2 linked regions of the Homo sapiens genome follow. The protein of the gene in region 1 purifies or fractionates together with the protein of each later gene. This does not show direct contact. Each region holds a gene or a part of one and is shown on either strand. Other genes may lie near its edges.

Region 1 (3,500 bases):
AGATAATCATGAGGCCAATAGAGGGGTGTAGCCATTTGAAGGAAGGAAGCATGAAGATTGGGGTGCCGGGGGAAGTAGCCCAGTGGGAAGCCTGCAGGGCGTCAGTCACAGAGAGCTCTGCACCATTTCCGTGTCTCCCTTTCAAGCTCCTCAAAAGTGAAGCCCTTACAGAAAACGAGAAGTCCTAGGCAAATCCAAGGGGCACCATGTCTTTGTAATGCCGTAGATCTGTGTGGCATGGCCCTCTCCTGCTGGCTTGGGGGTTGGGGGCGTCTAGTAGTTTGGTGCTAGAGGAGAAGCAGGCTCCCAGGCTGCTCCCTGCGGTGCTTTGTCTCTGACCTCACCTGTCCTCATTTCTCCCCCTTCTTCACGCAGGCATGGTGGCAGAGCCTGGCACCATTGCCGGGGTGGCCAGCGCCCTGGCCATGGCCCTCATCGGTGCCGTCTCCAGCTACATCTCCTACCAGCAGAAGAAGTTCTGCTTCAGCATTCAGCGTAAGTGCAGCCACCCACTCGTGGCTAGGAACCAGCTGGCAAGGTCTTTGGAGGGAAAGGGGCCAGGACAGATCCAGATCCCTCCACAGCCTGCCTGAGACCCACTCCCAAGCAGACTTCCTGGGACGGGGGTGGAGGCAACAGTTTTGGAAATCCCTGGGGACAGATCTGGGCTGAATTAAAGTGTAAACCACCCTGCAAGAGCGCGTGGGGCTGGCCCTGATGACCTTCACCTTCCAGGGCCCCAGCTCCCAGGGGTATTTCTGTGGGGACAGAGCTCAGTGACCACTGTGATGTTTCCTTCACGTAGAATGGGAGGGACCCTGGACTGCACCCATAGCTTCAGACCTCAGCCAAGCGGATGAGGGCCTTTGGAGGCCCTGCGTCACCAGCTCCCTCCCATGCTGCTGGCTCCCTCAGGAGCAGAGGGCAGCAGTTCCTGGGGGTTTGCAAAGCACGGCCCTTATTGCTCTGGCAGTGCCCCCGTCACATCGTGAGAAGTCACTGCCTGGTGCTCTTCCCCCTACGAGCCACAAACTGTATGGAATCATTAATTGCTCCAAAGAAGTAGGAATGTGAGAGAAAGAATGGTGTGGTTCCCCCCCGACCCACCACCCTTTACTAGGTTTTTAAAAGACAGTTTTCATCTCATGCTGTAGCTGTGAGTCTGGAAGTCATAGATTAATGGAATAGTTACAAATGGAATCCTGTCTTCACCCATCGGCGCCCCACATCAGGCAGCCCTGTGGGGATGCTGTTGAGGGAACAAGACCTTGCTTGTCCCTTTTGTAAGCACAGATGGATGCTCTGTCACTGTTTGCTGAGTGGAGCGTGTCTCCAGTTCAAGGCTGGCAATTTTCAGTTCAAGTGACAGAATGTGACTCAGCTGTAGCTTGTCTCTTTCCACTCCTTCCCCGGCCCCTTTGATGCAATGGGAAGCTTAGAAGCAACCCACGTGGGTCTTTCCCTACCCTTGCTGTGGCCCTCCGCCCTTAAGTCTAGCCTGAGCTGAGCTTCCCAGAAAACTAACCTGGGTCCCAAGATGCTTTACGGAAGTCTCCAACTGTTTATTAATCTGACCATCATATTTGTTTGCTTCACTCTTGTAGAACATTCTTGACCAGGGCGACACACACAGCAGGCACAGCAGTACTGCAGGAGCACGTTGACATGTCAGTGCGCAGCCTGCGAAACTGTTCATGGCCACCCTGCTTGAGATCCCACGGACCCACCGTGGATCCGGAAGCTTGACTGTAGAGTGGCATGAGCAGGGAATGGGTCAGACAGAGTCCAGGGCTGGGGAATGGATTGTTTTTAGAGTTACCCTTTTCCCTCAAATCAAAAATCAAGGAATCCTCTAACTGGTGAAAAAGATGGGAATCCAACCTTCTAATTGCCTGGACACTGATATTTAGAAGGAGACATTGGGCGAGAGGGTCGAGTTGCATTTAGCGCGGCGGGGGAAGTTTTGCATCAGCCTCCTGGGCTGTGCCTGGAACAAGGAGCCCAGGGCAACCAGGTACATAGTCACAGCCCTTCATCTCTGACCGTGTTCTTATTGCATTTGGCAAAAAAGTAGAAGCCGCCTAATACAGGGGTTTTCTGTTCAAGAGGCCCCAAGGCTGTCCTCCGTGGGCTCTCCCTCCGGCAGGTGGATTGGAACGAGATGGGGATTCTGGGACACAGCTCAATCCACATGGCCTTCCCCACGGCCAGGGATCCTCATTTGAAACTGCTCTTTGGGCTGGGAGCTCTCCATACTCGTCTCCCCTCCCTGTTTTAGAGGAGAGGGAGCAAGGACCTGGCCAGGGACACTTTGGGAGAACAACTCAGAGCATCCCGCTTGCCAGGAGAGGAGTGAAGATTTTGGATAAGCATCCAGGTTCTCAAGGTGGCCTCTTGGGAAAAGATAAAAGCCCAGATTTAGATTAAACCAGATCTGTAGGACAAAGTTAGAACTGACTGACAGAAAAATCTTTCCTGTATGACTGACTAAACTAGTTGGTAACTAAAATGTCATTGAACGAATATTTATTATTAAAAAAAATCCTACACCCAAAGATGTCCTCAAAATGGAGGCCACAGTGGCAGGGGAGGTCCTGGTGGCTGGCTAGAGGGCTTCTCCTGTGTGGACCTTTGCTGGAGAGCTTATTTGGCTGGAAGCACCATGTCAGATACATTTTGGCCTGATTTTCTGATGATTTCCCCTTCTAGGTGGCTGGGGTGGCAAGGAGGTTTGGTTCGTAGCAACAAAGTAGTTGTGAGCTCTTTGAACGAAAAGGCTAATGCCCTGGGAGCCAAAAGGTCTCACTGGTGAGGTTTGCCAAAGCTGTATGAGTTCACTGGGGCTGCCAGAACAGAGAGTCACAAACTGAGTGGCTCAAAACAACAGAAGTTGATTCTCTCCCAGTTCCAGGGGACTCCGGATGTTCCTTGGCTTGTGGCCATATCATTCCAATCTCGGTTTATATCCTAAATCCAGAATGACCTCATCTTAACATCCTTAACTTAATTACACCTGCAAAGACCCTGTTCCTGAATAAGGCCATGTTCACAGGTTCCAGGGATGAGGACACACGCAGATCTTTTTTGGCATGGGGCGGGGCATTCTTCACTATAGCATCGTCAGCCTAATGGTGAGATGCGACAGTCCACAGTTTTCACATCCATGCCCATTACAAAACTGGGTGAGATGGCCAGGCCAAAGGATGGCTTTGAGACTTTAAAAAGCATGCTGGGTAAAAGAAACTATTTAAACTACAGGTCTGTAGTTCCTCGTAAGAGCAGTGTCCCGGGCATCGTGCGCTTGCCAGCTACCTGCCATTGCCTCTCTTCCGGGCTCTGCACATGGGTGAAAAGCCAGCCCTGTAACTCGGCCTGGCAAGGGCAGGGCCATGGATGGGGAGAGTTCTTGGGCTGAGCAGACAGGGTGGCCGGCTTGGGCCCTCTCCTGCTGGGCCCTCAGTTTCCCCATCAAGGGTATCTCGACTTCCTTCTGCTCTGGA
Region 2 (3,500 bases), on another chromosome or scaffold:
CAGAGTTTCAAGAGAGGAAAATGGGGAGTTAGTGTTTGATGGATACAGAGATTCAAGAGAGGAAATGGGGAGTTAGTGTTTGATGGATACAGAGTTTCATCTGGGGCAGATGAGCGTTCTGGAGATGGTGGTGATGGTTGCACAACAATTGAAGGTACTTCATGCCACGGATCTGTATGCTTAAAAATGGTAAATTTTACATTATGTAAATTTTATCACAATTTTTTAAATGTAATTTTCTTTTTTTTAGTCTAGTCAAGTGCAGCAGTGAGAAGGGGGGAAAGAGTAGAACAAGGAGTTGGATCTGTAGCTGACTGTGAACAATCAAATGAGATAACTCACTCCCTTTGGACCAGCCTAAAATGTCACTTTTGAAGAGGTAATATTCAAGAATCTGCCCAGTTCCTCACCCCCTGTAGGTAACCATTTATAACACAGTAGATTACTATATATACTGTTCTGTGTCTTTAAAAGTACATTTAAAGCACTCTGCTACGTGTGCTTTTTTGCCAAACCCCTTCCCAGAAGCCATTACCTGGCAGGTAATGAAGAGCCCCACAGGCATAGAGGGTGAGGCATCTCTTGGGATGACATTCACTTTTACCCACAGTCCCCCAGACCACTGGCTGACCCATACCTTTTTCTGGCCAAAATCAATGAGGTTCTGCAGATCCAAGTCATCTCGGTAGTGCACAATGGCATTGTTGATGATCTCACTCACTTTCCCTCGAGCCTGCCGGAGACATGGGCAAGGAATCAGAACACAGGACTAATCCCTAACTTGCTCCTTCCAGCAAAAATAACAGTAGACAGGGATCATCCTTCTTAACTGAGTCTGCCTTGAAATCAGAACCGAGTCCTAATGGTGGAAGATAGCCGGTTCAGTTCCAAAGCCCATCCCAGGGCCCTCAGGTACCAGTGGGCAGGAGAAATGCTGGACCTGCTGTTGAAGCTTTTCAGAGACACATTTCAAGATATACCAATGTGTATCTATCTCTGAATGCTATTATCACAAAATACTTGTTGACTGATAAAAACAAACTAATTTTTAATTTTTTTAGCAGAAAGTAGCTTACTGAGCTGAGGCACTGCCCTCTAGTGGACACTAGATAATTGCATCTCTTTAGACTCAAAACAGAGCTATTTAATACATCATTTCAGGATCTTACTGTAAGCCAGGAGGACTACGAAATTCGGAATTAACTCAGTGGCTCTCGATTTCATAATTTTCTCCCCTCCCCTCCCCTCTCCCTTTCTCTTTTCTTTTCTTGATACAGTTTTACTGTCGCCCAGGCTGGAGTGTAGTGGCGCGATCTCAGCTTACTGCAACCTCCTTCTCCTGGGTTCAAGCAATTCTTGTGCCTCAGCCTCCTGACACCTGGCTAATTTTTTTGGTGTTTTTTAGTAGAGACAGGGATTCGCCATGTTGGCCAGGCTGGACTCGAACTCCTGGCCTCAAGTGATCTGCCCGCCTCAGCCTCCCAAAATGCTGGGATTACAGGCATGAGCTACCGCGCCTGGCCCAATTTCATAATTTTCTACCATAGTCTCTTCCTTCCTGCCCCACTACTTTTCTCAAATTTTCTTTCCTTAGTTTTGTAGTCTGCCCTTGGCAATCATTTGCCTTTTGGGAAAGACATTCTGGTTCTTAAAAAGGACTGTCACTGAATGGCAGACCATTTCCAGATATGGCAAGCATTGTTCAAAACCTTTTATTAAGCCAATCATGGTGGCACATGACTGTAATCCCAGAGACTTAGGAGATGGAGGCAGGAGGATCACTTGAGCCCAGGAGTTCAAGGCCAGCCTGGCAACCTAGTGAGACTCCCATCTCTTAAAAAACAAAAACAACAACCAAAAAAAAAAAAAAAAAGAAAGAAAGAAAAATAAACCTCAAAACAAAATCTTGTTCTCTTCCCCCTTCCTTCCTTCTGTTTATCTCAATAAACAATTTTTAAAAGAAATAAGAGGCTCTTCATATTGTCAGTGGTCCACTTGATTATTGAGTTTGATTCTGTCATTTGCTATTAAAGTTTCTAAGTTATTTTAACTTTGTGTTTGTATAATTTACTTCCCTGTTAGCTTCTCAGACTGTCAGAGGAAAGCACCTTATGATCTTAAAATTCTCTTCAAATATGATGAGTTTACAGGCTATTCATTCACCCCTAATGAACTTTTCAACGACTGATGTTTCTCAGGGGAAGGAGCTGTGGTTAATTAACCAGGCTAAACATGGGCAGGAACCTTCCTTCCTCCCTCTGGGTCACACCTGAGGAGGCCTCCTGGCTCCCAGTGTTACCTTGTCTGAGAAGACGAAGCCCAGGATCCCAGCGGCCAGCTGCAGCAGGAACACAGCGGTGAGGCAGAGGGAGAACTGTGGAGCAGCAGGAAGAAGAGGCGTCTAGGACCACTCATGGCAGCAACCCCTTCCAGGGCCAAGGGGATGCTGGGAGCTGCCAGGCAATTCTCCCAGATGCCCCACACATGAGAAAGGCAGCTGCCTCTGGGACACTGTCTTGGGGGTGGCCACCCTGTGCTGGGTCACCCGGGCTAAGCTCTGCACTGAGGGGTGGACAGCACAGGCTTGGGGGTAGGGTAGGACAAGGCAACCAAAGGGCCGTGGGAGGCTAAGAGGCATGATGGGGAGAGGGCCAGGGTCTTTCCAGTGGGGCCTTGACCACTCACCGTCTGCAGGAGGCAGATGTTCTCGCGGAGGGACCCAATGCAGCCACAGAAGGTGAGCAGGAACATGAGGACACCCACCACGATCAGCAGGATGGCAGGGTCCACTGCCAGGCAGGCTAGGGCTGCTTCTGGAAAAGGAGCCGGCCCTCAGCCTGAGCCTGGTGCCCACTGAGGAACCCCTGGATGGGGTGGGAGGGTGCCCCAAACTGTTCTCCTTCCCCTGGTGGGGGAATCTCCATTATGGTTGGATGAAGGTTAAGGGGAGGCAGTACCCCTGTCCCATGGGGAGAACCAAAAAGGGCCCAGAAGGGTTGTGGCATTTAATTTGAGGAACTAAAGAAATAAAAGCCTTTATTCCTGGGCTTAAGGAGGGGCTGCTTTCGCTCCGCAAAAGAATTGGAATGGCATTAGGCTCACCAGCTTTGCAGATTCTGTTTCCTGGTGACTTGTGTGGTGAAATAGGAATGGTGGTTGGGTTTCTCCAGGACAGAGCTAGGGAGGGGCTAAAGCCCTTGATGACTCTCTGCTCCCAGGGGCCTACCTTCTTTCTCACACACTTCCTAAGCCTCAAATGTAGGCATATCCTGGAAGACTCAGAGGGGCTCAGGGAAATCCAGGGGCACTGGCCTGGGGGGGTCTGACACCTACGTAGACCATGAAGATTTGGCTCCAGGGAGGCTGCCTCCTTTAGCCCCATAGCTTATGTGTGAGGGCCAGGCTGAAGGAGGCAGAGGGGAAAGGGGCATGGCACAAGGTGGGGGCAGGGAGGGAGAGCTACAGCTCACCTGCATGCTTCATTAGCCGAGCGTAGACAC

What was found.
Region 2: the proteins of CD99L2 (region 1) and TSPAN33 purify together in Homo sapiens (affinity purification with mass spectrometry; one large-scale study listed by BioGRID and IntAct). This does not show direct contact.

The regions. Positions count from the first base shown.
Region 1 is NC_000023.11:150,773,169-150,776,668, reverse strand, and holds part of CD99L2 (CD99 antigen-like protein 2 isoform 1 precursor), read left to right. Parts: intron 1-375; coding exon 376-495; intron 496-3,500. UniProt on the Homo sapiens protein: Plays a role in a late step of leukocyte extravasation helping cells to overcome the endothelial basement membrane. Acts at the same site as, but independently of, PECAM1.
Region 2 is NC_000007.14:129,161,707-129,165,206, reverse strand, and holds part of TSPAN33 (tetraspanin-33), read right to left. Parts: coding exon 3,471-3,500; intron 2,814-3,470; coding exon 2,686-2,813; intron 2,375-2,685; coding exon 2,300-2,374; intron 734-2,299; coding exon 638-733; intron 359-637; exon of another isoform or gene 249-358; intron 1-248. UniProt on the Homo sapiens protein: Part of TspanC8 subgroup, composed of 6 members that interact with the transmembrane metalloprotease ADAM10.